Linked DNA regions of Homo sapiens: region 1 is linked to region 2. Evidence: fine-mapped expression QTL. A gene starts in region 2. The other region holds a variant in brackets. All regions are shown on one strand. Distances are between the middles of the regions. Region 1 overlaps BSPRY (B-box and SPRY domain containing). Region 2 holds the start of SNX30-DT (SNX30 divergent transcript).

Region 1 (15,273 bases), 610 kb after region 2:
TTCCAGACCATCCTGGCTAACGCGGTGAAACCCCGTCTCTACTAAAAATACAAAAAAATTAGCAGGGCATGGTGGCGGGCGCCTGTATTCTCAGCTACTTGGGAGGCTGAGGCAGGAGAATCACTTGAACCCGGGAGGCGGAGGTTGCAGTGAGCTGAGACTGCGCACTGCACTGCAGCCTGGGCAACAGTGCGAGACTCTGTCTCAAAAAAAAAAGAAAGAAACACTTTGGCTGCTATGTTTAGAAGTGATTATAGGCGGCAAAGGTTAAAGCAGGGAGACCAGTTAGGAAGCCATTGTAATAATCCAGGTGGGAAACAAGTGTGGTCTGGACCCAAGCAATGGTGGCAAAGCTAGTGAGAAGTGGCTAGATTCTGCATATATTTTGAAGAGGCAACAGGATTTGCTGATGGACTAGATGTAGGCTATGAAAGAAAGAGGGGAGGTGTCAGGATAATGCTGAAGTTTTTTTATTTGAGCAACTGGCAGGATGGAGCAGCCATGAACTGGGTGGGGGAAGGACTGCATGTGGAGTGATGGTTGGCGGAGGCAGGGAGGGGAGTGGGGGAGAGCAGGCATGCTAAGTTGTTGTGGGCATGTTATGTTTGAGATACCTATTTGACATCCAAGTGAAGGTGCTGAGTAGGTAGCTGCATATATGAGTTGGGAGAGGGCTGGGTTGGAGATATAAATTTGGGATTTATCAGTGTATAAATAGTATTGAAAGCCGTGGGAGAGGATGACATCACTAAGTGAATGAGTGTAGACACGAAAGAGCAGCGGTCCAAAGACTGAGCCCTAGGGCACTTCACCTCCTATTGAGAAGACAGAAGGAACCAGCGAACGGGGACCAAGAAATCAGCTAATGAAACGGAAGTAAACTAAGAGAGCAGAGTGTCCCAGCATGGGTTCCAAGGAGGTGGGAGAGATCACTGCTCTCAAATGGTGTATATTTATTTAACTATCTTATCACAGGCATAGATTCATGTGATTACTACCACAATTAAAATACAGAACAGTTCCATCACTAGGACTCCTTGTGCTACCCTTTTATAGCCACATGTACCCTTTCCTATCCCCTTGTATTATTAATACAAAATTTCTGAATTTGGATTGCTAATCTCAGTAAAGCATTTTTTATTTTTGTTTTAGGATTTTTGCTTGTATGCTCAGGAGTGAGATTAGTCTATGAATTTCATTTCTTGTACAGTCCTCATCAGATTTGGTATCAAGGTTATGTGAGCCTTATTCAATGGATTGGAAAACAGAACTCTTTTTTCTTAAGGGTTTACTTAAGATAAAGTTGTTCTTAGTTTTGATCAAAGTTGCCACAGGTTTGACTGTTAGTCTTTAGAACCAGCTTCTAGTATTTTTGGTCTACTCTTTTGTATCTTTGTCTTAATTTCATTATTATTTCTTTCTCTTTTTTTAGACAAAGTCTCACTCCATTGCCCAGGCTGAAATGCAGTGGCGCAATCATAGCTCACTGCAGCCTTGAACTCCTGGGCTCAAGTGATCCTGCTGCCTTGGCCTCCCAAACTGCTTGGATTACCAGCATGACCCGGTACTGTGCCTGGCCTGTAGAGTTCTATATATATATATATATATATATATATATATATATATATATATATATATATATATATCTCTATTAAGCTTATTCATTGGGCTGAGCATGGTAGCTCATGCCTATAATCCCAGCACTTTGGGAGGCCAAGGCCAGGAGGATCACTTGAACCCAGGAGTTCGAGACTGTTTTGGGCAATATAGCAAGACCCTATCTCTACAAAAAATTAAAAAATTATCCAGACATGATGGCATGGGCCTATAGTCCCAACTATTTGGGAGGGTGAGGTGAGAGGATCACTTGAGCCTAGGAGTTTGAGGCTGCAGTGAGCTATGATTGCATCACTGCATTCTAGCCTGGGTGACAGAGCGAGACCCTGTCTCAAAAAACAAAAAATAAAAACCTCTTTTTTTTTCTTTTTTGAGACAGAGTCTTGCCCTGTCACCCAGGCTGGAGTGCAGTGGTGCGATCTCAGCTCACTGCAGCCTCCACCTCCCAGCTTCAAGCAATTCTCCTGCCTCAGCCTCCTGAGTAACTGGGATTACAGGCTCCCACCACCAGGCCCAGCTAATTTTTGTATTTTAGTAGAGGCGGGGTTTCACCTTATTGGCCAGGTTGGTCTTAAACTCCTGACCTTGGGTGATCCACCTGCCTCAGCCTCCCAAAGTGCTGGGATTACAGGTATGAGCCACCGTGTCCAGCCACAACCACACTTTTAAAAGGATGCTTGGGCTATTTTTCCAGCATTTCTCTACTTTATTCTGAGAGGGTTTTTGGTTTGTCTACTCTCTGTCATGTGTTTGGAAAGGGAAGTTTTTCTTTTCTTTGCTCTCCTTTTCTGGGAATGGCTCAACAAACTTGTTGAGAATGACTAGAGTCTTTTAGGCAGGAATCAGAATCTGATTCATCTTGGGTGAGGATCTGTTTTGATCCAGGATCACACAGTACAACCATGGTTTCAGGGGCTCACCCTGTGGGTAAGGCATTAAAGTGGGATAAACAGGAGAATAATCGTGGGCTGGATGCAGTTGCTCATGACTGTAATCCCAGCACTTTGGAAGACTGAGGCAGGAGGATCGCTTGAGCCCAGGAGTTCAAAGCTGCAGTGAGCTATGATTGTGCCACTGCATTTCAGCCTGGGCATCAGAGCAAGACTGTGTCTCTTAAAGAAAAGAAAAGAAAAGAAAAAAAAAAGATAAAGAAGAGCAATAGTGAATGAATGTTATTGAACACATAATGTAGCAGGCTTTGTTCTACTTACTTTATATATATTAACACATTTAACCCTCACTATAGCCTTATGAGGTAGGTACTATTATTATCCTCATTTTACAGATTAGAAAATAGAGGCATAGGGAAGATAAGGAATATGTTCTAAGTTCCACAGCTAATGAGCGGAGCAGTTAAGATTTAAATCTACACACTACCTCTAAAGCTTAATTTCCTGACCACTATGTTATGTTGCCTCAAGAGCACACTATAAACTTGGAGTCTTACCTTCTGGGTTCACTTGCCATTCACTTAGCTAGTCTCTCCTCCCTGTAAGGCAAACTGTGGGTCTCAGTGTTTTCTGTAAAATAGGAATGATTGCCCTGTGCACTGTACAAAGCAGGTCTTAAGGGACAGGGCATAGGGAAAGCTGCTGGCTGTCCCTGACTTTCTGACATGAAGGAGGCAGTTCTATTCCCACTTGTCTGGCAAGAGTACAAGTGCAGCTGCCTTATGCAACAGGTGCCTTTGGGAAGGATTGGTTGCCAGGTGGCATCTGGTGTAGGGGAATGGGACTGGACTGAGAGTCAAGAGAATTGGGTTCGAGTCTCAGCTTTGCTACTGAATTGCCATGTGAGCACTATGAAGAGATCTTTTACTAAGTCAGAAAAAATTTCCTGGGTGGGCACAGTGGCTCATGCCTATAATCCCAGCGCTTTGTGGGGCTGAGTTGGGCTTATTTATTGAGCCTAGGAGTTTGAGACCAGCTTGGGCAACATGGTGAAACTCCATCTCTATTAAAAAAAATTTAAAAAAAAAAATTTCCCATTCAGTCAATATTTGAGTACCTACTGCATGCCAGGCACTGTGCTAAGAATTACAAGAAGACACCTGTTAATTGTCTGAGAATTGATTTCAGGCCTCTTCTGTGGCAGATAAAAATTCTACCACATAACCAGTTGAAATGGACAGTTTTAGGAAGTCATCAGTTTTTTCCCTCAAACATGGTGAAATATCAACTGTACCACTGCTGGTATGGATCCTGCTGATGGGGATGACTTTTTAGGCCCTCTGCTCTGCAATTCTGTGATTCTCTGACCTTGATCCTTTGACCTTGTATTCCCAACTGTGATTAAGCAGAGTATTCTAGTTGGGCTCTAAGTCCTGCCCAGGTCTTCCATTATGTGATCATGGCTCCCTGAGATATGGCCTATGTGTCTGCATCTCAAATTTCTTTACCCTAAACCATATTTGGGAAGTCTTGGGGCAGAGATGTCAAAGTAAAAGGCTTACATGCTATTATTTCCATTACTAAGCCCGTGGCAGACATTGCTAATCAATCTCAACACTCCTTTCCACTGAGCCTAAACCCTCTTAAATCCTGACCGGGGCTTTGCACAGACCACCCAACTCCTCATTTTATCCCTCATTAGAGCATGGCCAGTGCAGCGAGGGAACTGGTTATCCAGCGGTTGAGTCTGGTGAGGAGTCTTTGCGAGAGCGAGGAGCAGCGGTTACTGGAACAGGTGCATGGCGAAGAGGAGCGGGCCCACCAGAGCATCCTGACACAGCGGGTGCACTGGGCCGAGGCGCTGCAGAAACTTGACACCATCCGCACTGGCCTGGTGGGCATGCTTACTCACCTGGATGACCTCCAGCTGATTGTAAGTCAGGCAAGGGTGAGGGCATGACCAGTTGGCCAGGCTCCCCAAAAGCCTGAAAATATCGAGAATGTTTGTCGGTATGAGGAGGGTGGAAATGAGAATTTGGAGCAGGGATGAGTGACAAAGATTCTTTGCTTGGCCAAACTTTAGTCAGGCTTCTGAGCCTTCTCCCAGGCCCATCTGTGCACTTCATTATAAAATCCAGTTTTTGCAAAATAACCCTGCTAAGTCAGTGTAGCCAGAAACCCCCATCCTTGATATCTGATCATCCTTGATATCTGATCAGGTTCCTCATCCACCACCATCCCCTAGGTGATGTCTGATCACTGTGTTCTGTCTGCAGCAAGAATCCTGTTAGGTAGGTTTAGCCATAATCCCCCTTACCCCCAATGTTTCCTCTTAGTAATTTTCCATCCACTAACCCCCAACCCTGCTCCTTAGCTATAAATTCCTACCTGCCCACGCTGTATTCAGAGTTGAACCCAGTCTCTCTCCCATTGCAAGACCCCATTGCAATGAGGTCTTGAATAAAGTCTGCCTTACTGTGCTCTAACAGGTATCATTGAATAATTTCTTCTCTGACATGAGGCAAGGGAATAAAACTATGTTTCTTTGGCACTGATAATAGTTTTCTTTTGATAGTGAGTCATTGTATACTGAGTGCCTATTATATGTGAAGCACTGTGCTATGGGGCAGAGTAACGAGATGCAGCTGTCAGCTGCTCCCAGCCTTACAAAGGAGACAAATACACTGGCTGACAATTAGGATATGGAAGGATATGTGCTATGGTAGAGGAACTCACCCATGCTAGGGACGGACAATCCAGGCTAGGGGAAAGAGGGGTCAGGGAAGGTTCCCGGATGAAGCGACTTAGAAGCTGATGCCTGAAAGATAAGAAAACTAGCTGTGTCAAAGGAAGTGAGGAGGTGGAAAGAGTTCAGGAGCATGTAGAGAGAACACTGTGCTCCGGGGAGCTGACAAGGTCTTCGATATGAAAACACAGAGCTCATCCTTAATCCTACCACCCAGAAATCACCATGATTCATATTTGGTACATAGCCTTTCAAAGTATTTTATATAGATAGGCAGCTGCCTGCAGTTTTGAGGGGAGAAGGTGGCATCTGAGTCACAAGCAGAGGAAAGAGAATGTGGAACACCTGAGCTGTCCCACTGCCTCTGCAAGTAGGGCAGTTTCTATGACTGCTCGAAACTGTGCATTCATTTAGTCACAGCATCCATGGACAGAGCATGCTCTTTCACAGACACTGGGACAGTCACAATAGAAGACTCAGAAAGAGTCGCAGCCGTCCAGGAGCTAACAGTCTTCATGGGAGATGCTGTTGGGTGAACAGGCGATGGTCCTGAGTGGAGTTGAGGGGAATCCAGGATGCCCTGGGACATGGGGTAGAGTGATTCATTCTGAGCATGTGTTATGGGTGTGTGTGTGTGTGTGTGTGTGTGTGTGTGTGTGTGTGTAGAATAGCCTAGAAAGCTTTATGCTGGTCTTAAAGACTAGAAGTTTTTATTCTAGAGTCCACATGGAGCCCTTTCTGGTAGTTAAATCTGTCTTAGCATTGACTCCCTGCTGGGTATCTGGTGCCAAGCTTGACTTTGTTTTCTTTTCTCACAGCAGAAGGAGCAAGAGATTTTCGAGAGGTGAGTATAGACCCCGTGATTTGACTGGGTAGTCTTGGAGACCCTTAGACCTCTTCACACTCCACTGCCTTCAGCCCTGCTGCTCTTGGGAGAATGCACAGGGTGTGCAGCTGAGTGGCTTTTCTGGAGCCTGGCTCTGTGGACAGGGAATGTCTCTGCCCTTGGCTTAGAGAACTGCTTTAAAACACATGGAAAGGCAGTGGAATACTTAGTAATCCAAGGCTTGCCACTGCTTTCTTAAACTTCCTCTGTAAAAAGGTAGTCACCCTGTTGGAGGGTTTTACCACCTCCATGTGCAGATGAAAATGTTGAGATTCTAAAAGGGGAAGGGATCTCCCTAAGCCTGGAACCAGGGGTTGGACCCATCTAACACCTGCCCCGGTACTGTTGCCTCTGCCTCACTTCTCCTTTCCCTGATGGAGGAATCTTTGAAACTTAAGTCTGCATTACCATTCAGATTTTGCATTTTAGCTCTTCAGTAATAAAAGAATTTCACCAGGTCCTGCCTGAGTTCTAAAAGAGCTGAGGGCCTGAGGAAGTGGCCAAGAGGACATAATTTGCCAGGCAGAGTAATTCACAAACCTTCTGTGTGAAATTTCAGAGTTATACTTAGGGAACACAGTCCATTCTTCTTATTTATTTACTTATTTTTCTGTATTTCAATGGGTATAAATTATTTATTTTTATATTGAAGTTTCAATAGTAATACATGTGCATGAGAGAAAAAAAATCCACCAATATAAAGCCATTTAAAATGAAAAATGAATCTTGCTGGGCATGGTGTCTTACACCTGTAATTCCAGCACTTTGGGAGGCCAAGGCAGGATGGTAGCTTGAAGCTAGGAGTTTGAGACCAGCCTGGGCAATACAATAAGACCTGATATCTACAAAAAAAAAATTAGCCATGCTTCGTGCTGAGAGCCTATAGTCCCAGCTTCTCAGAAGGCTGAGACAGGAGCATCACTTGAACCTGGGTGGTTGAGGCTACAGTGAGCTGTGCTCACACCACTGCACTCAGCCTGGGCAACAGAGTAAGACCCTGTCTCAAAGAAAAAGAAAAAAGAAAAAGAAAAATGAGTCTGCATTACCCTTTCCCAATCCTATTCCCTGACAGTGATGGGTTTGAACAGATGTGCATTTGTGGACTTATATATAGTCATAGGAGGGTATGTGGCGGTTTTTTGGTTGTTGTCTTAAAAATGTTTTTTAGGCCCGGTGGCTCATGCCTATAATCCCAGCACTTTGGGAGGCCGAGGAAGGTGGATCACTTGAGGTCAGGAGTTCAAAACCAGCCTGGGCCAAGATAGTGAAATCCTGTCTCTACTAAAAATACAAAAATTAGGTGTGGTGGTGTGTGCCTGTAGTCCCAGCTACTCAGGAGGCTGAGGCAGGAGAATCTCTTGAACCCAGGAGGCGGAGGTTGCAGTGAGCTGAGATGCGCCACTGCACTCCAGCCTGGGTGACAGAGTGAGACTCCACCTCAAAAAAAAAAAAAAAAAAAAAAAAAAAAAAAGCTGGGCGTGATGACTCACGCCTGTAATCCCATCACTTAGGGAGGCCTAGGCAGGCAGATCGCTTGAGGTCAGGAGTTCACAACCAGCCTGGCCAATATGGCGAAAGAAACCTATTAAAAATACAAAAATTAGCTAGGTGCGGTAGCGTACCCCTGTAATCTCAGTTACTGGGGAAGCTGAGGCAAGAGGATCACTTGAGCCCAGGAGGCGGAGGTTATAGTGAGCTGAGAGCCTGCCACTGCACTCCAGACTGGGTGATGGGAGTGAAACCCTGTCTCAAAAAAAACAAAAAAATCAAAACACAGATAGGATCATTTTATACCTGTTGTTGTGAAACTTGTTAGGCTATCTGGGACATCTTTCCACATCAGTACATTTACATTCACGTCACTTTTTTGAAAGTTTGTGAAATATTGCAGTGTAGACGGATCATATTTATTTTACTGTCTCCTAACGCATGCTTGGCTTGTTCCCACTTCTCCCCTTGTACAATCTTTTCACACTTCTGCCCATCTTCTCTATCTCCTTTATCTTTGTCATCTTCCTTTAATACAGTGTGTCCTTAATATCAAGCTGATCTGATTTTTTAATTGATCTTTAATTTTTTATTCAAATGATTCATTTATTCAAATGATTTCAAACTTAGAAAAAAGTTGCAAAGGTAGTATAACGAGCTTCACGTAGAAAATATCAATTGTTGACATTTTGCCACATTCATTGTCGCTCGTTCTCTCTGTCTTCCTATTTATCTATCTAGTATATATGTTAGAAACTTATTTTTTTATGGTATATTTGAGGGTAAATTCCAGAAAACATGAATTTTTCTTTCAAGATACTTCAGCATGTTTCTCCTAGAAACAAAGACATTCCCTTACATCACCCCAGTGTAAATTAAGGAAATTTAACATTGATATAATACTATAATCTAATACACAGTCCATATCCAACTGTTGCCAATTGTGCAAAAGTTCTTAATAGTGTTTTATTTTGTTTTCCTAATTCAGCTGTCTTTTTAAGTCTAGAATTATTCCTTAGCTTGTTTTTTTTTTTTTTTTTAACATTTTTAAAGAGTCAAGGCCAGTTTTATAGGATCTCCTTCAGTTGGGTTTATCTGATGTTATCTTATGATTAGATTCAAGTTATACATTTTTAGCAGGAATACTTCATAAGTGATCTGTCTTCAGTTCATCATATCTGGGGGCACATGATGTCCCTTTGTCCGTTATCAAGGATGTCAATTTTGAGCACTTGGATGTCTGCCAGGTTTCCTCATTATAAAGTTATGCTTTTCCTTTTATAATTAATAAGCAGTCTGTGAGGAGACACTTTCTGCATATATATCCTGTGTCCCTTCAGACTTTCTCCCAATAGTTTTAGCATCCATTGGTCACTCCTGCCTGAATTATTCCTTTTATTTGCTTGTTTGTTCCCTTATTCAATATTAATACAGACTGATGGATTCTTATTTTATTCAGTGCATTATAATCTGTCACTGTTATTACTAATTTTGACATTCAGACTGTCCCAGATTTGGCCTGTAGAAGCCCTTTCAAGCTGGACCCTGTGTCCTTTTGAAAAGTTCCCATCATTCTTTGAGCACTTTCTTGCTCTCTTTCACAAGAAGCACAAGAAGAAAACCCCAGCTCAACTTGTGCTTTTCCTGCCCCTGAATCAGCTGCTTCTCCAGGGCACCTGGTTGTTTTTAGTGGAGAATGATATTTAGAAACCAAGATCTGAGCATTAAGGGTACTCAGTGACCTTGCTTCTAGGCCTCACTCAGCTCACTCAGCATATAGCAGATGGAACTAGGAAGGGAGAAAGAGAAAGAGAGAGAGAGAGAG[AGTGT/A]GTGTGTGTGTGTGTAGCTGTTTGATGCATGAGTTTGTGTCACAGCTTCTTTTTTTTTTTTTTTTTTTTGAGATGGAGTCTTACTCTGTCACTTAGGCTGGAGTGCAGTGGCGCAATCTTGCCTCACTGCAACTTCCACCTCCTGGGTCCAAGCGATTCTCCTGCCTCAGCCTGCCAAGTAGCTGGGATTACAGGCATGTGTCACCACACCCAGCTAATTTTTGTAATTTTAGTGGAGACAAGGTTTCACCATATTAGCCAGGCTGGTCTCGAACTCTTGACCTCAAGTGATCCTTCCACCTCAGTCTCCCAAAGTGCTGGGATTACAGGCATAAGCCACCATGCCCAGCCTGTATCACAGATTCTAATTCCAATGTAACACCTCAAGGTTTTTCCTTTGCCCTCTCCCTTTCTACATTTGTACCTTTTGTTATTTTACAGTGAGGACTCCAGCCCCCAACAACATCAGTATTTGCTCAGTCCTACAATACATACAAAGTTGTCCGAGCATTGCTAAGCCCATACTACTATTGAAAGGCCTATCCATAGAGTTCCAGATTTGTCTGTAGTTCTTTATGCCCCCAGGCTGAGCGAATATACTCTCAAAGTAGTGTTCAAAAGTTGTGAAGCCCCATCTAGCCGGAAACTCACTTATCTGAGAAGTGCCTTGTTGGCTCTGGTGTTTCCACGCTTGTAGCTGGGCTCAACTCTGACTGGACACTGCAGCAGATCCTGCCGCACCATCTGGGCATTCTGATCCTGGCCAGGGCCTGCTGTGTTCAGGCCCTTTTTCATTTCCACCCCTTTGGGGCCATGAGTTTTGTCTTCGGTACCATAGGGCAGCTAGCCCGGGTGGTTCGCTGTAGACTTCACTATGTTCAGCCTCACATTTGCCCTGGGATGACAGCTTAGCACCGCTGACATCAGCTCCTCTTTCTTCCCCACCTGTTGGCGGGAGCTCCTGCGTTCTGAGAAGATGGCAATAGACCCTCTGTTGTCCTGACCACAAAGAGCCTTTGTTACTAGAGCTTGCTCCCAGCATTTCTAAGGTTCTGTTCACCTTATACCTCCCAAGACAGAACAGTGACAGTCTTGCAAAGAGCCATCAGGGCACATGCCCCACCCCTGTGCCCACTCCATTTATGCACAGAGCCATGAGATATGGGGAGAGAGTGTGTGTACTCGGAACCACTGCCTGATCTCAACGCCATCTTCAGGATTGGAGGCAGTAGGAAAGGTCTTTCTCAGCACCTAGGTCAAAAGGCTGCAAAGCTCCATGGTAAACCCCTACTTTGCCCTATATTCCTTTGAGATTTCACTTCAGGTCAAGGAAAAAATTATGTTGAATGCTGCCTGGGCTTCATCCCAGTTTTGTTCTATTTTTGCATGGAGGCATGACTTGAATCTAGCTCCCCTTTTTAGCTCTGAATCTGTTCTGTCCTGTTAAATCAGATAACCACTACCTCCCAGGTTATAGCAAAGTTGAGGTATGATTCTGTAGAGAAAACAGCAAACCCAGGCCCTCACTGCTGATACATGGCAGTTTTCAACTCCTAGGCATCATATTGTCCCAAAATACCTCTCCAGCAAAACCCAGCCCCCATTGTGAGCTGAGGGGAGAGTTATTGAGAGCACACAGTGCCATGATTCATTTGTGGCTGGGGTGATAACTGATGGCCCTTTCCTCTGTGGACCCCTCAGGTGTTTGCATTTTTAAAGTAGAGGAGTGGCTGTACCTTCTGACAAAACCCAGGGAAACATGACTGCCCCAACAGGTCTGAGAGGGAGGTGAGATATTTTCCAGGCAAGGGCAAGATGTTGGAGTAGAAAGACTATCGTGCAGGGGTTCCAGAGGCCCAGGAGGTCTTAGCCCCAGCTCTGCCATTAACTTACTGAGGGACTCTGGCAAGTTGCTTCCTCTGCAGAGCACACCACCTTCAATTTCTAATACTGGCACCAAGAACACATCTTCCTATAAACTGTCCACCAGCTTTGCTAAAATTAAGGCTTCTGGGGGGCACAGGGGAAATGGCCACCTTCCCTTTTGGCCCAAGCACCTGTGTGGGGCCTGGATGCCACTCTTTTTTTTTTTTTTGAGACAGGGTCTCACTCTGTCACCCAGGCTGGAGTGCAGTGGCATGATCTTGGCTCACTGCAGCCTCGAACTCCTGGGCTTAAGCAATCTTCCCACCTCAGCCTCCCAGGTAGCTGGGACTACAGGTGCATGCCACCACACCCAGCTAATTTTTAAATTTTTTGTAGAGATGGAGTCTTATTATGTTGCCCATGCTGGTCTCAAACTCCTGGGCTCAAGTGATCCTCTCCCACATCAGGCCTTCCAAAGTGCTAGGGTCACAGGGGTGAGCCACTGCACCTGGCCCTAGCTGCCAATCTTGGTATCGCCTGATAGGAGATTTTACTTCTGTTCTTCTCTTCACCCCATATTGATCCAGATATATTTCCAGAACCATCCTGAATCTCTGTCTCTGTTTTTCCCCATATAAGGACCGAAGAAGCAGAGGGCATTTTGGATCCCCAGGAGTCGGAAATGTTAAACTTTAATGAGAAGTGCACTCGGAGCCCACTACTGACCCAACTCTGGGCAACGGCGGTTCTTGGGTCTCTCTCAGGTTAGGAGCAGTAGAGCCCAGGACCATTAGGACAACTGGGCTTCTGTCTGTCTGTCTGGGGTTCACTCCTGGTTCACAATGGGGACCCGTGCTTCTGAGATGATAGCTTAAACAAGTCATGCTGGATGCAGGCTGGTCAGTAGGGTCAAGGTTCCAGACAGGCCTGGGGCAGCTGGGCCAAGTCCTTCCCATTTCCGGACTAACATGTTCTGTGGTTGGGTCAAAGATAAATCTCATTCCTATAAGTCATGTCTTCCTTATATCCTGACCTACTAGGGCAGCCCAGTATTATTTATTGGAAACCTGGGGTTTCTCTTTAAGAAGATAAAATTGATGGCCAACTGAAGAACATCTGGACCAAGAATCAAACTGCCTGATTTGCCTCACTTATTCACTTTACACACACTGACTCAGGCCAACTGTGGGCCCCACCCTGTGCCACATGCTGGGGCCACAGAGGTAAACTGACATGGTCTTCTGCCTCCAGGAATTCCCATTTAGCACAGAGGTTCTCCAGAGCAGGCCTCCTCCAAGTTAGATGGAAGCTTCCATTCTCCCAATGGTAGTCTTTCACAATTCGTGGAACAGTTAGGTTAATAGACTGATTTTTTTTTTTTTTCAGTTTTAATCCTCCCTCCTCGTATTATCCTTACAATTTTGGTAGAAGCTGTAGCTTCTCTACTCTAGATTCTGGTATCAAATGATGCCTGATTTACCAGCAGTTTAGATATTTGCTAGAAATTGCTTATCTCATGCTTCCTAGCTCCCAGAGGCTGTGTTTCTAGGACACGTCCAATCTGGAGGCCACAGATATGACCAAGTAGAAAGAGTATAATCAGTGCTACGTATAGGAACAAAATGTTTTGTCTTCATTTTGCCCCTCCCACCAAGTCAGTGTGTAAACTTGGGCAACTCCCTTTTTCTCTCTGGGCCTTATTTCTATCAGAGTTTACAGTTGAGGGTCTTGACTGATAGTAACTATTGTTATGAAGGCTACAGTTTATAGAGCACTTACATGCTGGGCACTTTACATGTATGATTCTGTTTAATTCTCGTGATCACCCAGTGAGAAGTCCTATTTTGACCCCCGTTTTGCAGACAAGGCTCAGAGAGAGTAAATGGCTTATATGAGGTCACCATGCTAGTGAGTGGTGAGGAACCTTTTGCTACCTGGCAGGACCAGGTTAGGGCAGGGGTGGGCCCTCGGCAACTCTGAGAATTCTTTCTGGCAGGCACAGAGGACATACGGATCGATGAGAGGACAGTCAGCCCCTTCCTGCAATTGTCAGATGATCGAAAGACCCTGACCTTCAGCACCAAGAAGTCAAAGGCCTGTGCAGATGGCCCGGAGCGCTTCGACCACTGGCCCAATGCCCTGGCTGCCACCTCCTTCCAGAATGGGCTCCATGCCTGGATGGTGAATGTCCAGAACAGTTGTGCCTATAAGGTGGGCGTGGCTTCAGGCCACCTGCCCCGCAAGGGTTCTGGCAGTGACTGCCGTCTGGGCCACAATGCCTTCTCCTGGGTCTTCTCTCGCTATGATCAGGAGTTTCGTTTCTCACACAATGGGCAGCACGAGCCCCTGGGGCTGCTGCGGGGCCCAGCCCAGCTGGGTGTAGTGCTGGACTTGCAGGTTCAGGAGCTGCTCTTCTATGAGCCAGCCTCCGGCACAGTGCTCTGTGCCCATCATGTGTCCTTCCCGGGGCCCCTCTTCCCAGTCTTTGCTGTGGCCGATCAGACCATTTCTATCGTCCGCTGACCTCTGGCCACAGGAAGCCAGGTCCACCGCCCACCACCCTTTCAGGCCATGTTTCTACTCAGTGTGCTTTTCCCAAATGATGTGTGTGGTGTTTCTAAGAGAAACAGGGCCCATAACCAGTGGGCAGCTTTAGGAGGGATGGGGATCTGTTTCAGATCTAGGCATAACCTGTAAATCACAGGTGTCCAAACTTTTGGCTTCCCTGGGCCACATTTGAAGAAGAATTTTCTTGGGCCACATAAAATACACTAACGATAGCTGATGAGCTAAAAAAAAAAAAAAAGTCTGTGTATAATTTTTGTGATATCTGCCACCACAGATAAGCAAAAAAGTCCTTGCATTCAAAGGGTTGGAGATTGCTGCTTTGAGTGCTGGGTACCTGTGGGGAACCTACTACTCCCTGGGCCTTAGTCTCCCAAATCCACCATGCATCTGCCCCTCTGAGGGTGTCTTCACTTTGTCTCTGGCATCTAGCATGGTGCCTGGTGCATAGTGAGCATGCAATAAATATTTGGCAGGTGAGTGGATGGATAGATGGATAGGTGAATGTAGGTGGACAGGTGACTGGGTGGATGTTGTGGTCTCTGGAGAAGCACTGCCATTCAGCCTCCTGCTCCAGCTGTTCACATGCAGAAATGCTCTCTTCACAGGCAGAGAAGCCTGTGGCTAAAGTTTCCACATCCCATTAACTCAGTGCTTTTGTCTTTTTCATGACATGGCACATAGAGAAAATATTTTTTTCTAGCACACAAGAGCAACCTGAAAGGCTGCTCCTGGCCAGAGGACTCTGTCCCGGGGGACCGTGTCCTCCCCCATGTCCTGCCTAGGCCCTCAGAGGACCAGGGGATCATGTCTCCAGGTAACCCGACTGTAGCCCCTGCTGGCTGAGCTCCAGCCTGTGCCCACTGATAATAGCAGGGACGGCCTTTTCTCTTAGAGCAGCTGATAAGTTTCCCTACCTGATGGCCCCCTCTGACATAAACTGCACACCTGGGGTGATGGCTTAAAGCCAGAAAGAGCTGAGGGAGTTAAGAGGGCCAACCTTAGGGCACGTGGGCATTATTAAAGGTCTTAAAAGCATTGAAGATTTATTCCATGTTCTTTGTTGATAATTGGGTGTATACTGTACGCTGGCCTGTCTTCATACCCTTATTGCATTCTCGGAAATAAGTGGGTCGCAGCTCAGTGTAGCGGAAAGAGCCTGGAGACATTACCAAGACCCAAGGCAAGTCCCTTTATGTTTGTCTCCATGAGGAGTTCACCCTAGAACAGTGGTCTTCAAACTTTTGTCCAGGAACTCTCTTCAAAAGTAATCTTACCTACAACTTTAGGCTCCTGCGTCCAAAGAAGATGAAAGGCAGAGCCCTCCCCACTTTCTTTGGGAGCTGCAGAGCAGTTTGAAAACCACTGTTTATTAATTTTTTTTTT
Region 2 (15,273 bases):
ACCCGGCCTGCTTGATGAATTTTTACAAAATAAAACAAAAAACAAACAAACAAACAAACAAACAAGCCCACAGATCAAAAAACAAATACCCCAGAACTCACTACCATTCTGTTTTCTCACACTGCACGTTAGTTTTGCCTGTTTTTTAGCTTTATATAAATGGAGTCATACAGCAGATATTCTTTTATATCTAGCTTGTTTCACTCACTATTGTATTTGTGAGATGCATTCACCATGTTGTTCCTTCATTCTGTTGTGCAATATTCCATTGTGTGAATGTATCACATTTATTCACGCATTACACTGTTGACAGCCATGTGACTGGTTTCCAGTTTTCGCTCTTACAAATAGCACTGCTGAGGAGATTCTTGGATCAATCTTTTGGTAAATGTATGCACGCATTTCTACTGTGTTCTGAAAGTAGAACTGCTGGGCCATATCATGTGTGAATGTCCATGTTCCAGATGCCTTTTTTTTTTTTTTTAAGATGGAGTTTCACCCTTGTTTCCCAGTCTGGAGTGAAATGGCGCAATCTGGGCTCACTGCAACCTCCACCTCCCGGGTTCAAGCAATTCTCGTGCCTCAGCCTCCCGTGTAGCTGGGATTACAGGCATGTGCCACCTCACCTGGCTAATTTTTGTATTTTCAGTGGTGATGGGGTTTCACTATGTTGGTCAGGCCAGTCTCAAACTCCTGACCTCAGGTGATCCACCCGCCTTGGCCTCTCAAAGTGTTGGGATTACAGGCATGAGCCACCGCACCCAGCCTTCAGATGCCTTTTAAGGATCACTCCTCGTGATGGAATCAAACACTCTCATGGAGGCACACAGCCAGTAAGTAGGTTTTCCATTCTATCCAAAGAATCACTGTTAATAAGACTCAGTGCCCGTGGTTCCAGTACTTGTCAGTTCCATATCTTCTCCAGCCCAACCTCTCTAATGGGTAGCCCTCACAAAGGAATACACATCCATGCCCAAACTCCATACACCTGTGCCTGCTTGTAAAGAAAGCCAGGTAGCACGTATCCTTCAGTGATGGCAGTGAAAGGTGTTTCTATAGCCAGATGTGGCCCAGCTACTAGGAGCCTTCAGGGTAGGCCAAGGTTTTGAGGGCTCTGGAAAGTATCCACTCCTCTGTGATCTACTTCATGACCAGACTTATGAAATGAAACTATTGGCCGGGCACGGTGGCTCACGCCTGTAATCCCAGCACTTTGGGAGGTCGAGGCAGGTGGATCACGAGGTCAGGAGATCAAGACCATCCTGGCTAACACGGTGAAACCCCGTCTCTACTAAAAATACAAAAACAAAATTAGCCGGGTGCGGTGGTGGGTGCCTGTAGTCTCAGCTACTCAGGAGGCTGAGGCAGGAGAATGGCATGAACCCAAGAGGTGGAGCTTGCAGTGAGCTGAGATCGCGCCACTGCACTCCAGCCTGGGTGACAGAGCGAGACTCCGTTTAAAAACAACAACAATAACAACAATAAAAAAAAATTATCAACAAATAGGTTAGTTCATCTGAGCTCTTTTCTTAAAATTTTTTTTTAATTTAATATTTTTTGTGGGCACATAGTAGGCATATATATTTATGGGGTACATGAAATACTTTGATACAGGTATACAATGCATAATAACACATCAGGGTAAATGGGATATCCATCACCTCAATCTTCCCTTATATTTTAAGCGCCTGGTAGATGCTCACTAAAATAATCATAAAAGTTTAGGAGCAAAAGGACCTTGTAATGTAATTTTCTAATAGAAAATTGCTTTCTAAGCAAGTTTTCAAACAGGATATTTATTTAAAGTAAGCACTTAAAGGTTTGGAATGTCAATTTATAGTTTAGAAAAATGGAAGGATCTTGGCTGGGAGTGGTGGCTCACGCCTGTAATCCCAGCACTTTGGGAGGCCAAAGTGGGCAGATCACTTGAGGTCAGGAGTTCAAGACAAGCCTGGCCAACATGGTGAAACCCTGTCTTTACTAAATATACAAAAATTAGCTGGGCGTGGTGGTGCGCGCCTATAATCCCAGCTACTCGGGAGGCTGAGGCAGGAGAATCGCTTGAACCCAGGAGGCAGTGGCGACAGTGAGCTGAGATTGCACCACTGCACTCCAGCCTGGGCGACAGGGCGAGACTCTGTCTCAAAAAAAAAGAAAAAAAAAAGAAAAGAAAAATGGAAGGATTTGGATGGATTCATGCTAGGTTAAAAGAGAGAGAGAAAGGCTGGCACGGTGGTTCACACCTGTAATCCCGGCACTTTGGGAGGCCAAAGTAGGCGGATCACCTGAGGTCAGGAGTTTAGACCAGCCTGGCCAACATGGCGAAACACCATCTCTACTAAAAACACAAAAATTAGCTGGGCATGCTGGTGTGCGCCTGTAATCCCAGCTACTCCGGAAGCTGAGGCAGGTGAATTGCTTGAACCTAGGAGGTGGAGGTTGCAGTGAGCCGAGATTGCACCACTGCACTCCGACCTGGGTGACACAGTGAGACTCTGTCTCAAAAAAAAAAAAAAAAAACAACGAAAAGAAAAATGGAAGGATCTTGATGGATTGATGCTAGGTTAAAAGAGAGAGAGCGAGCAAGAGAAATGGAAGGAGCTAAGAGAACAGTGTTTCTCAAAATATAGTCTATAGACCAGCATCAGCGTAAGCATCACCTAGGAGATTAACACTTTTTAAATTAAAAATTAATTTAAATTAAAAATTATTCCAGGCCTCACTCCAGAAGCAGAATCTCTTGATGTGGGGCCCAGAAGTTTGCATTTTTACAAGCTCACAATTGATTGTTAGGCACCCAAAGTTTGAGATTTGGAACACTAACTCCATGACTGTACTGTATAACTCACTGCATCAGGGTCTCCATGCTTTGCAAGCCAGGAGCTCTTCTATATGGAGAGATAAAATGATGCTATCATTCACCCACAAGCCCCTCTGCTGGTTCAGTAGCAAGTTCCAATTTCTTGTTAGCAAAACTGTTCAGATCCTGGACTCAAGTGGACCTTGTTTCTTTCCTGGGACATCATTGGCTGAATTAAATTGTCCACACAATTTTGTCTCTGTTGGGGATTGTGCCTTCTCACTTGCCCCCCTTGTTTGATACAGCCCTCTGTGGCTTGCGACATGTCATCCTGAATGCTCTCTGAAAACGTCCTTTGTCCTCACCAGCCGTCCACTTCAGAAGTGGTGGTGTTATTCTGAGGCAGGGCTTGGGATGCCATATAGAATAAAGCTATGATTGTACTAAAAACCACCAGAGGATAAGCGGCTAACACAAACATGAAGAAGGCCTAAGCACATGCTGTACCAGGGGAAAGAATGAGCGAATGATGCATTGAGACTGCTTTGTTTCTGAGGTCTGGGTGCTCACAGGCAGCCCCAATACGCTTGCTAGTGAGGTCGATAGGATTTGTTTGGTAAGCGTACTAAATTCTGGGGCCCAAAGCCCTGTCTCCTGAAAGGTGCCAGCCTAAGTGTCTAAGATTCCTTATGAATTGGGAGGGCTCCATGCTGTGTTCTTGGGTTCTGGTGGCATTGGGGACCTCCCTCGCCCCTCATGCACACACATACATCTACTATCTTCCTCAGAGCTCAACCCTAGAAATCCAAGCTTCCCTCCATAAGTTCCAACAAACACCACAGCCTTCTGCTCTGATGGAGAAACGTTACACGTTTCCTCCTTACCACCATGCTGCTTTTAAAACTTTTAGTAGCCTGTAATCCCAGCACTTTGGGAGGCCAAGGCAGGCAGATCACTTGAGGTCATGAGTTTGAGACCAGCCTGGACAACATGGTGAAACCCTGTCTCTACTAAAAATACAAAAATTAGCCGGGCATGGTGGCACACACCTGTAATCCCAGCTACTGTGGAGGCTGAGGCAGGAGAATCGCTTGAACCTGGGAGGCGGAGGTTGCAGTGAGCTGAGATTGCGCCACTGCACTCCAGCCTGGGCGACAGAGCAAGGCCCTGTCTCCAAGAAAAAAAAAAAAAAAAAACAAAACCTTTTAGTAGAAGCAAAGTCACATGCTCTGGGACACTTATATTATTTCAGTGACAATTTCCCACCACAAGGAACACTGAAATACCACAGGAAATGGTGAATATGAATGGGCAGGGCTGGGCTAAATTTCATCGTGGAAACTTTCTACCAAAATACTTTCCATACAAATTCACTTTCTTTAGTTTTGATGACTACCCACTGGATATTGTGGCCAGCTGCTATCGACCAACCAGGAAACTGGAAAATAAATAAATAAACTGTAATCAACTATTTCATATGGCCTTTTAGGAACTCTGGGTCTGGGTCCTTTTTTTGGTGGGAGCATAGAAAAGTGGTACTCCAATCTAAACTGAGCAAATGGAGGACTTTGGAGGTCAATACACACACACACACACACACACACATATACACACATATATATGTACACACACATATATATGTATATATATATATATTTTTTTTTATTTTGAGACAAGGTCTCCTTCTGTTGCCCAGGCTGAAGTACAGTGGTGCAATCTCAGCTCATTGCACCCTCAACCTCCCAGGCTCAAGCAATCCTTCCACCTCAGCCTCTTGGGTAGCTGGGACTACAGGTATGTGCCACCATGCCGGACTAATTTTTACATTTTTTATAGAGATGGGGCTCTCACTATGTTGCCCAAGCTGGTCTTGAACTTATGGGCTCAAGTGATCCTCCCACCTTGGCCTCCCAAAGTGCTGGGATTACAGGTGTGAGGCACCCTACCTGGTGTGTATGTGTGTGTATATATATGTATATTCAACCAGACCCTACTCAGAATAGTAAAGCATATTTAATTACAAAAACTCTTTATTATTTCATAAGAATAGTAGAGAAAATCTGACAGAAAGGGAAAGGAAGGTAGGTAATTAACATTTAGGGAGCACCTATTTTATGCCAGCACTTTGCTAGGACTATGACATAAAGAATGCTATATAACTCTCACAACCATCTCATAAGGTATTATTACCTGCTCTCCATTCTCCTCCTTTTTAGGTTAGGAACAGGTTCACTGAGGTTAGTAACTTGCTCATGGTCACCCACTTGTAGTGACAAAGCCGAATTCAAATGTGGTTCTTTTTTCACTTTCCCCTGGTGTACTAAAGAGAAAGCTTGTATAGAGTCTTAATCCATACGGATGTCCATTATATTTAAGGCAGCCTGGTTGTTAAAATAAGTAGCACCATTCAATAAGAAAAACCGATGTTATACATCTATAGATGTATATACTCATTTCTAGAAATACTCATTTCTAGTTATATTGTGCTATTCATTTTCATGCTAATTCAGAAGAACAGATAATAGGGTCTGTAGTAGTTGTAAGCAGCCCTTGAATGTGAAAGTGTTAACAATTTTAATCCAACTCCAAGAGGACCAGAACTTGGCATTCCTTAGATGCAGCATTTAAAATTGTTCCCAGTGCCCTTTGAATGCTACTTTTCCCAGCCAAGGCAGGCTTATGTGGAGGAGATAAAGATGATAGCTTGAGGACTAAGGGTCCAACCCTATATAAATTACATTGGGGGAAATAGGGGAAGGTCTTTGAAGCTCAGAGTCTCTGACTGATATTTTGGGTAGATTTCAACCCTCTGCATTCTCTTCTATTTGTTTCTAGAGAAAACTGTGGTAGAGGCCTTAGTGAATCCCAGAGTCAACATCTGTCATCACCTTTTAGCAGGTAAGGCTAGGCAAACCTTTGAGTTTGGAATGGGTAGGGAAAATGTGGTCCCTCACGATGAGCCTCCCTACCCATTACTTTGCTAGAGGGACTGAAAACCCTTTAAAGACTTGGCCTTGGAAACAGAAGATCTAGGGACAGGTAAGGTGGAAAAAGGAGGTGAACCTACACCCCAAAGGGCTGGAAGTAACACCTTGACTATTTGCACCACGCCAGCAAATAAAGCTGAGAATCAGCTCAGCCCAAGGCCTGGAAAGGAAGCACAAATGCATGAAGAATAACTTGAACCTCATGGTTCTTTCAAAAGTCTCTTCGGCCAAAGTGTGAGTTGAAGAGTCGCATATCATTTGAGACTCTCTACTCATGCTCGCTGTTCTGAGGTTTGACTTTACACAAATCCAGCTCAGCTGCAGAAGCAAGCCACAATGGGGACCTCAGAGTGAGCCTGAAGACTCCCCACACCGCCTCTTTGAAGTCCCTTCCAGGTTCCCCACCCGATGTCCTCTAGCTCATTTGAGCCTTGTCGCCCTTTATGCTATTCTTCCGATATGGGTCGTAATTCCGTCTATCTAGGGTTCTTCCTGCGCGTGCCTTAGAGGCCAGAAGACCCTGACTCACGTGCGTGTCCTCAAAGCCCCCAGCCCCAAGCGTGGCTGCTGGTGGGCGCATCAGTAAACGCGGGTGGAACGGAACAGGCTCCTCCAACCTCTTTTCCACCTCTGATTTCCGTTAGACATTTGCTCCGCACGGCGGCCTCCGCGAGGCAACGTTGGACACTGGGAGGACAGCCGCAGAGGCCCAGGGCGCACTTCCTGCCGGGCGGGGGCGGGGCCGCGCCTCCTCCCTCCCTCCCTCCGTCCTTCCTTCCCCACGTGCCCCTTCCCCGCCCTCCCCGCCCCCTCCCGGGCGGCCGCGGCGCCTCGGGGGCGGGGCCGGAGCGGGTGGGCGGTGTGGCTGTGTGGGCTGGGCGCCGCGGCCGTGCTGCCAGCGGACCCGCGGCGGGCTCGGGCGCGGAGCGGGGGCGCGCGGCGCGGAGCGGAGCGTCTGAGCGCCGGCAGAGACCAGCCGGCGGGTGGCGGCGGCCCCCAGCACGGCCGGTGCAAGGCCTCGGGTTAAGCGGCGGCCGAGCGGGGCTCGGCCCGGGGTGCTCGGGGAGCTCGCCGCGGCGGGCAGCAGGAGGAAGCGGCGGCGGCGCGTCCCGAGCGGTGCGCGCCATGGCGGGCGGGCCCCCCAAGGCCCTGCCGTCCACGGGGCCCCACTCCCTGCGCGACATGCCGCACCCGCTGGCCGGCTCCAGCAGCGAGGAGGCCGTGGGTGGTGACAGCACGCCCAGCCCGGACCTGCTGATGGCCCGCAGCTTCGGTGACAAGGTGGGGCGCCTGGGGCCGGGGAGTGGGAGGCTTATTTCGCTCCCCGTGGGGGGGATGATGGATCCGGAGCCTTCGTGGGCCTGGGGCCGCGCCCACCCTGCCGCCCCTTCCCGGGGGACGGGCGTGTCCTGGCCCCGGAGCCCTCGGCGAAGCGTCTCCTCTGCCGCCTCCGCGGGGTCGCAGCCGCAGAGGGACAGGCTTCGCTGCCTGTGACTGGTCGCAAGCACCGGTGACAGCTGGTGGGGAGGGGTCCAGCCTGCGTGTTGGAGCGGGAGGCGTGTGTTCAGGGCAGGGCGCCTGTGTCCTCGGATGGGGTTCCGAGTTCCTCCAGGTGCATCCCTGCAGGCTGAGCTGCTGCATAACTTGTAGCTCCTCCAGTTTCCGAGACTGCACAGAAAGCAGGAGTTCCTGGCTTTCCGTGCTGGGACCGGGCAGCCCTGGGCTTACAGCGAGAGTCTTCTTCCCCCTAGTCAGTCATGTGGGGAGTGATCTTTGTTTAGGTTTGCTGTTTGTCCTGAGGAGTCACCTGACTCAGACCCCAGCCGGCGGCGGGAGGAGAGCCTCGTTGTGGTTTTCTGTCTGGGGCTCCATTCACCTCCGACGGCCTACCACTCTGTTTAGGTTTGGCAGAGGCTGGTTTTGTGGTTGATGGAAAGAAAGCTCGCCCTTTGACCTTCTTTGTACGGAGGGAGGCTCCAGATTTTCTTAGAGCAGCACAACCCTCCTGCTGCTTGGAGAGACAGCAGAGTCCAGGCAGGGGTAAGGGACGACCTCCTCCCTACCCCCATGGCCATTTCAGCTGTGAAGGAGACTTGAGCAGTGATTGTATCCCCGCTCCTGCCGTCACTTAGTCACTAACTGCAGAAATTAGAATTGTTCTCAGGTCTTGTGATCAAGATTTTCTCTCCCTAGTAAAATACTAAATGAATTCCCCCTTGTCCCAATATTAATGGGAGCAGGGGACCTAACTTTCTTCTCCCGTTAGAGGGGACACCATGTGGTACAGTGAAAAAGGAGTATGAGAAAATATAACCTGCCCTCCTTGCAGTCAGAAGGTCACTGAGCACTTAAAATCACTAGAGAGTGCGACTTGATGTACCTTCTGCAGAGGGTTTGTGAAAGCAGGGAGTGAAGTTCCAAAGCATTAGGAACAGGAAAATTAAAAAAGCTAATGGAGGCCAGGTGCAGTGGCTCACACCTGTAATACCAGCACTTTGGGAGGCTGAAGTGGGATGATTGCTCTGAACCAAAAGTTTGAGACCAGCCTGGGCAACATATCGAGACCCCGTTTCCACATACGCACACAGCATGGTGGCATGCACCTGTAATCCAGGCTACTCAGGAGGCTGAGGCGGGAGGATTGCTTGAGCCTGGGAGTTCAAGGCTGCAGTGAGCTATGATTGCACCGCTGTACTCCAGCCTGGGCAAGAGAGTGAGACCCTGTCTCCAAAAAATGTTGAATAACTGAATAAATTTGCTTTCTTATCGACAAAAATTGGTCTTAAAATAGTGTAGGAACTGGGGGTTAAACCTCATTTCCTTCTCAGTTCTGTGTGGGACACTGAATTAATTATCTATTGCTGTGTAGCAAATTACCCCAAAACTTATCACCTGGAAATAGTGTCTGTGGGACAATCTGAGTGGTTCTGAATTAGGCCTTTCTTGAGGTTGCAGTCAAGTTGTTGGCTTGGGCTGCAGTCATCTGAAGGCTGGATTAGGGGAGGATCCACTTCTAAGCTCACTCACATGGCTGTTGGCAGGTCTTAGTTACTCTCCATAGGGCTGTTTGATGTGGCAACTGGTTTTTCCCCCCAGAGCAAGTGATCCAAGAGAGCTCAAGACTCTAGCCAGTCTTGTATAACTTATCTTGGAAATGACATGCCTCTGCTGTATTCTGTTGGTCACACAGATTGACACTGGTACAATGTGGGGAGAGGGTGTGAATATCAGGGTGTGTATACCAAGAGGTGGGGATCATTGGGCCATCTTGGAGACTGGCTACTACAGATAGCCATTTAAAATATTTACCTAACGATTCACTCATGGATGATACCTGACTCAGAAGTATGAGCATTTTACTAATAAGCACTTGGAAGACAAATTCCCCGTACCACCAAGATCTGGTTAGTGGTGAAGAAGTCAGTCTCAAGTCTAATTACCGATGGCTTCCTTTAAAGGGTCTGTTCTGTGTAGGAGGGAGAGTCTTGAAGGCATTATTAATTATTGAATATATATGTATTTTTTTGAGCAGAGACTTACTCTGTCACCCAGGCTGGAGCGCAGTGGCCTGATCCTGACTCACTGCAACCTCCACCTCCCTGGTCAAAGTGATTCTCGTGTCTCAGCTCCCGTATAGCTGTGATTACAGGCGTGTGCTACCTTGACCAGGTAATTTGTGTATTTTTAGTAGAGACGAGGTTTCGCCATGTTGGCCAGGCTAGTCTCGAACTCCTGGCTTCAAGTGATCTGCCCTCCTCGGCCTCCCAAAGTGCTGGGATTACAAACATGAGCCACTGTGCCTGGCCTAATTATTGAATATTTAATGAATCTCCTAACAGCTGTGGGGAGCATCTAAATGACACCATTCTCAAGGGCCTGATTTATAGTAAGCCACTTTTCCTTAGAGGCTAAGCATTGTAATTTCTTTCTCTGACTAGGAGTAACATTTTCCTTGAATCTTGGCATACACGTATGGTCTCATAACTCTGAAGAAATTTCTGTAGAGAGAAGCTAGCAAGCCACAGAGGTGAGTCAGAGCCAGAAGAAGGAAGCCTTCCCTGTGGCTGGCTTTCTCCTACCTCAGCAGCATGAGGGTCATCAGAGGGGTGTTAGGACAGTTCAGTGCTATGGTCTGTCTTTGAAAAGAAGCCAGTTTTGTCTTGTTAGATACTGGGGTTGTGATCCTGGATGACAGGGATTCTGCGTCAGTTCTGGGCCAGGGGAATGAAGGTTTGACAGGCTGGTCATAGTACAGGGTTATTATGCAAAGGGGAATTGCTTTCTGAGGGCCCAAGATGGTGCGATGAACAGGGTAGCCTGGTGTCTTGGTCCAGCTGACGCTTGTGAATGAACTCTGTAGTGCTTGGGTAGAAGAGAAAGACTGAATATGATGGACTCTCCACCAATTTCTCAAATTGTTCAAATCATGGTGTGATGCCTCCCTTCATAGGCTCCCAAAGGAGGAATCCTTTCTATCTACCAGAGGTTGCCAGGACTAATTCTTTTGATGCCTGCTAAACTCACTGGGCCTTTTTTTTTTTTTTTTTTTTTTGAGATGGAGTCTCACTCTGTTGCCTAGGCTAGAGTGCAGTGGTGCAGTCTCACTGCAACCTTTCCCTCCTGGGTTCATGTGATTCTCCTGCCTCAGCCTCCTGAGTAGCTGAGATTACAGGTGACTGCCACCACACCTGGCTAATTTTTTTATTTTTAGTAGTGATGGGGTTTTACCATGTTAGCCTGGCTGGTCTCGAACTTCTGACCTCAGATGATCTGCCCACCTCTGCCTCCCAAAGTTCTGGGATTACAGGCGTGAGCCTCACTGGACCTTATATGGCTATCTCCATCTAAAATGTAAATACATCACTTAGCCTTACTCTCCTTTTTTAACTTTCATCTGTAAATTGCTCCAGGCTGCTTCTCCTCTGACTCAGCCTCTAACTTCTGTACCCCTCCCAAAACTTAATACTGGATTCTTAAGCCCCATTGTGTGGCTAACACCTCCTCCCACATCCTCAATCTCTTCTCTGAACTCTTCATCTACTTCCTGCCTCCTTAGGTCACTTAGACGTCCTCTGAAGTCTTCAAAATAGAGAAGGCTTTTCCTCCATCACCTTTTACAAACCAGGCTCTGCTCCTTTGAGGCTCCTGTCATTCTTTTTGTTCATTTGATACATATTTGAGGGCCTACTATGAGCCAGGCACTGTTCTAGGAACTTGAATAAATTAGCTGAAAACCCTGCCCTCACTGGATACATTTCAGCAAGTTTGTACTGTATTACACCATAAATGCCATGGAAGGAGGAAAAAGGAGAACTGGCCGCGAGGAAGAGGATTTGGCAGGCCTTGTTGAGTACTTGATATTTGAGCAGACTGGAAGGAGGTGAGGGAGTTAGTGGGTGAGTATCTGAAGAAGACTGTCCGGGGAGGGACTGCCTGAAGCAGAGGCCGGAAGGCACAGGGCTGGTGTGTCGGGGAGCAGCCTAGAGGCCAGTGTGGCCAGGTAGAGTGAGCATTGGAGAGTTAAAGGCTGGGGGCAGAGAAGGGAGGGGTCAGATTATATTGAATGTGGCCGGTCACCCTGAGGACTTTGGCCTTTATTGCTAGGGCCATGGGGTGGGAAGTTAACATGGGCAGGGGACATTTCAGGGTCTTGAGCAGGAGGGGGGCATAGTTTGATTATATATTGAAAAGGATCACATAGGCTGTTCAATTGAGACTACCTTGAGCATTCCCCTGAATTAGTTAGGATTCTTTATTAGTTAAAAAGACATGAGCTGAATGCAAACTAGATAGAGGAAAATAAAAATCTACTGGCTCACGTTGCTGAAAAGGCCCAGGTATTTTGGCTTCAGGGATGGCTGGAGCAAGGTATTCCAGTGATGTCGGGGATCTGTCACTTTCCATCTCTTGGCTCTGCTTTCTTCTGTGTCAGCCTTGTTCTCATGCCAGTGAAGGGATATGTTCTATAAACAAGCTTCCCAGCTCCAGCAGAAGGAGAGCACTCCTTTCCTGATAGTTCTGGCCAAAGCTCTGGGCTGGTGTCTCATTGGTCTAAATTGGGTCAGGCGCCTAAACCAGTCTCTGATTCTGATTGCGCAGACTTGAATCAGGTACTTATCTTTGGAATGAGGAAAGGAATTTTTTTAAAATTGGGGAATATATACATGAAGTTTATAACAATGTGTGTATATAAAGAGTAAAAGTTATCTGTACAGTTTAAAGACTAATAAAATGTTCCTACCCCCAGATTAAGATACAGAATATTACAAATATTTTGGAAGCCCCCTCTGTGCCTGGGAAGGGAGGAGGTGGTTGCCAGAGCAAAATCAAGAAATGTTAGACAAGCAGGAAACAAATATCCACTACAGACCTTCCAATACTGTTTTCTTTGTCATTTTCCAACTTCACACCTTCTCACTCTCATTCATTAAATCTTTAGACCCCAACTTACTGTCTTCTGAAATCATGTCCTCACCACGGGGCTTTAATCATTCACATGGCTGATCTGTCCAACTCTCCAAAATTACCAGTTTCTTGACCTCCTTATCTGTAATCATCCTTTTTTTTTTTTTTTTTTTTTTTTTTTGGGATGGAGTCTTGCCCTGTTGCCCAGGCTGTGGTGCAATGGCACGATCTCAGCTCACTGCGATCTCAGCTCACTGTAACCTCTGCCTCCAGGGTTCAAGCGATTTTCCTGCCTCAGCCTCCTGAGTAGCTGGGACTACAGGTGCCCACCACCACGCCCAGCTAATTTTTGTATTTTTAGTAGAGACGGGGTTTCACCATATTGGCCAGGCTGGTCTCGAACTCCTGACCTCAGGTGATCCGCCTGCCTCGGCCTCTGAAAGTGCTGGGATCACAGGCGTGAGCCACTGCGCTCGGCTCCTTCACCTTTTTAACAGTTCATCTGCTCTCTCCCACGGCCGCACCCTGCGTTGTAATACCTAGAAGCATTCCAGCTCTGAAATAGTGCCACTGGATATTATCACATTTTATTGTGTTTATTTAAGGTATACAACTTGATGTTATGGGATACACATAGATAGTAAAAGTTTACTATAGTGGAGCAAATGAACACAGTCATCATCTCATAGTTAACTCATTTTGTTTTTGTGGCAAGAGCATCTAAATTGACTCATTTAGCATGATTGTCAAGTACAGTACAATTTTATTATTAATAACTCTAGTCCTCATGTTCTACATTAGATCTCCAGACTTGTACACTCCTCCATATCTGCTATTTTGTATCCGTTTACCTACATCTTCCCATTTCCTCTCCCACCTGCCCTTGGTAGCCACTATTTTGTGTTCTTTCTCTATATATTTGAATTTTTTTAAAGATTCCATATGTAAGTGAGATCACTCAGTGTTTTTCTTTCTGTGTCCGGCTTGTTGCACTTAGCATAATTTCCTTCAGGCTCATTCACGTTATGGCAAATGACAAGATGTCATTCTTTTCTGGGGCTGAATAATATTCAGTTTTGTGTGTACACACACAGTACAGTTTCTCTATCTGTTCGTCCATTGAGGCCTGCTTAGGTTGTTTCTATATCTTGGCTATTGTGAATAATGCTGCAGTGAATGTGGGAGTGCAGATATCTTTATGAGGTGTTGATTTCAGTTCCTTTGGGTATGTGCCCAGAAGAGGGATTGCTGGGTCATATGGTGGTTCTATTTTTAATGTCTTTAGAAACCTCCATACTGTTTTCCATAATGGCTGTACCAATCTACATTCCTAACAGCGTTGTACAAAAGTTCCCTTTTCCCCGCGTATATCATTTTGTCTTGCTTTCCCGTCCTGGCTTTCCAGGTCTCTGAGTCATTAACAACTGACTATACCTGTTCTGTTCTGTGACCTCTTGGATTCCCCTACCTCCTTTAGATTCTGTGGCCCATCTCCGTGGTTGCTCCTGCCTCTATATTCAGTTCCCTTGCTCTCTTCTTTTTATACCCAGCTTGGATCATTCCATTTGTTCATGTCTTTCATCTACAACCAGGGTTCTCAGGAAGCTCAAGGGTTGCTGCCAATGTAAGTTCACAGGTTTCAGCCACAGCTGGGGCTTCAGTGGTCCTGGACACTCCTTCTTTTCCACAGACCCTCCGTCTGCACAGTGGCTTATCTGAAACTTTTCTCTGCTCCTCATACCCTCTACCCTTCTACTCCACCCTTCCTTCTGCTGATTGCCTCACCTTCCACCTTAGAGAAGATGGAAGCCACCAGAAAGGAACTTCCCTTCTTCAAATTTCAGAATGATCTGACTCCATAGCCATGTTTTCTTTCTGGCCCTTGTTCCAAGGAGAGAGTCTAAGGCTGACTGAGGGTGTAGACCCACCTGCCACCCCCCATCCTCTTGGAGACCCTGCTCTGTTTGGCCTCCTGACTTACCCCTGTATCTTTGGACTCCCTCTCAACCAGCTCACTCCCATCAATATTTAAACATGCTCAAGTTGCGCTCTCTCTTTTTTTTTTTGAGACAGTATCTGGCTTTGTCACCCAGACTGGAGTGCAGTGGCACGATCTTGGCTCGCTGCAACCTCTGCCTCCTGGGCTCAAGAGATTCTCCTGCCTCAGCCTCCTGAGTAGCTGGGACCACAGACGCGCATCACCATGCCTGGCTAATTTTTGTGTTTTTGGTAGAGATGGGGTTTCGCCATGTTGGCCAGGCTGGTCTTGACGCCTGGCTAATTTTTGTGTTTTTGGTAGAGACGGGGTTTCGCCATGTTGGCCAGGTTGGTCTCGAACTCCTGAGCTCAAGCGATCTGCCCGCATCAGCCTTTCAAAATGCTGAGGTTACAGTTGTGAGCCACCATGCCTGGCCAAGTTGCTCTGATTTTTAAAACACAGAAAGAGTGGCTGGGCGTGGTGGCTCTTGCCTGTAATCTCAGCACTTTGGGAGGCCAAGGCAGGAACATTGCTGGAGGCCAGGAGTTTGAGACCAGCCTGGGCAATATAGTGAGACCTTGTCTCTGTTAAACACACACACACACACACACATACACACACAATCGCTTGAGCCCAGGAGTTTAAGACCAGCCCGGGCAATATAGTGAGAACTTGTCTCTATTAAACACACACACACGCGCGCACGTGCACACACAGAGAGAAAGAGTAAAGGAAGCTCTGCTATGATGTTCTTTTCTCCTCCATCTGGTGCCTTTTTTTTGTGGGGGTGGAGATAAGGTCTTGCTTTGTTGCCCAGGCTGGTCTCGAACTCCTGGCCTCAAGTGATCTTCCTGCCTCAACTTCCCAAAATGCTTGGATTATAGGCCTGAGTCACTGTGCCTGGTCTTGTGCCCTATTTTGTGACTCCTCTTTACAATACACTTTTCTGAAGAGAAGGTTTGCGGCCCTTGCTTCCACTTCCTGACCTCTGACATACTCCTCAGCCTCCTGCTGCCTAGTTTCTGACTCTGTTCTTCAGGGTCCTCAGTGATCTCATTATTGCTAAATCCAGTAGATGCTTTATAGTCCTTATTTTGCCTGAC

Evidence for each region. PIP is the estimated chance that this variant, and not a neighbour inherited with it, causes the effect.
Region 1: its variant is fine-mapped to the expression of SNX30-DT in naive CD8 T cells (Schmiedel 2018, PIP 0.95).

What each region holds. Positions count from the first base shown.
Region 1 is chr9:113,356,298-113,371,570 of GRCh38, forward strand. It overlaps BSPRY (B-box and SPRY domain containing), which reads left to right. Exons shown (of 6, transcript NM_017688.3): 3 at 4,210-4,440; 4 at 6,072-6,097; 5 at 11,962-12,086; 6 at 13,319-14,925. The coding sequence ends at 13,845. Among named protein-coding and RNA genes, the nearest start is that of HDHD3, 13 kb to the right of the region's middle. RefSeq lists enhancers at 13,121-13,621, 13,622-14,122. The variant AGTGT/A (reference allele first, on the strand shown) is at 9,453.
Region 2 is chr9:112,744,090-112,759,362 of GRCh38, forward strand. It overlaps SNX30-DT (SNX30 divergent transcript), which reads right to left and starts at 6,476. Exons shown (of 1, transcript NR_186503.1): 1 at 4,795-6,476. SNX30 (sorting nexin family member 30) reads left to right here and starts at 6,671. Exons shown (of 9, transcript NM_001012994.2): 1 at 6,671-7,068. The coding sequence starts at 6,913. RefSeq lists a silencer at 6,429-7,248 and enhancers at 6,518-7,439, 7,440-8,359, 10,490-11,104, 10,563-10,652, 11,105-11,718 and 1 more.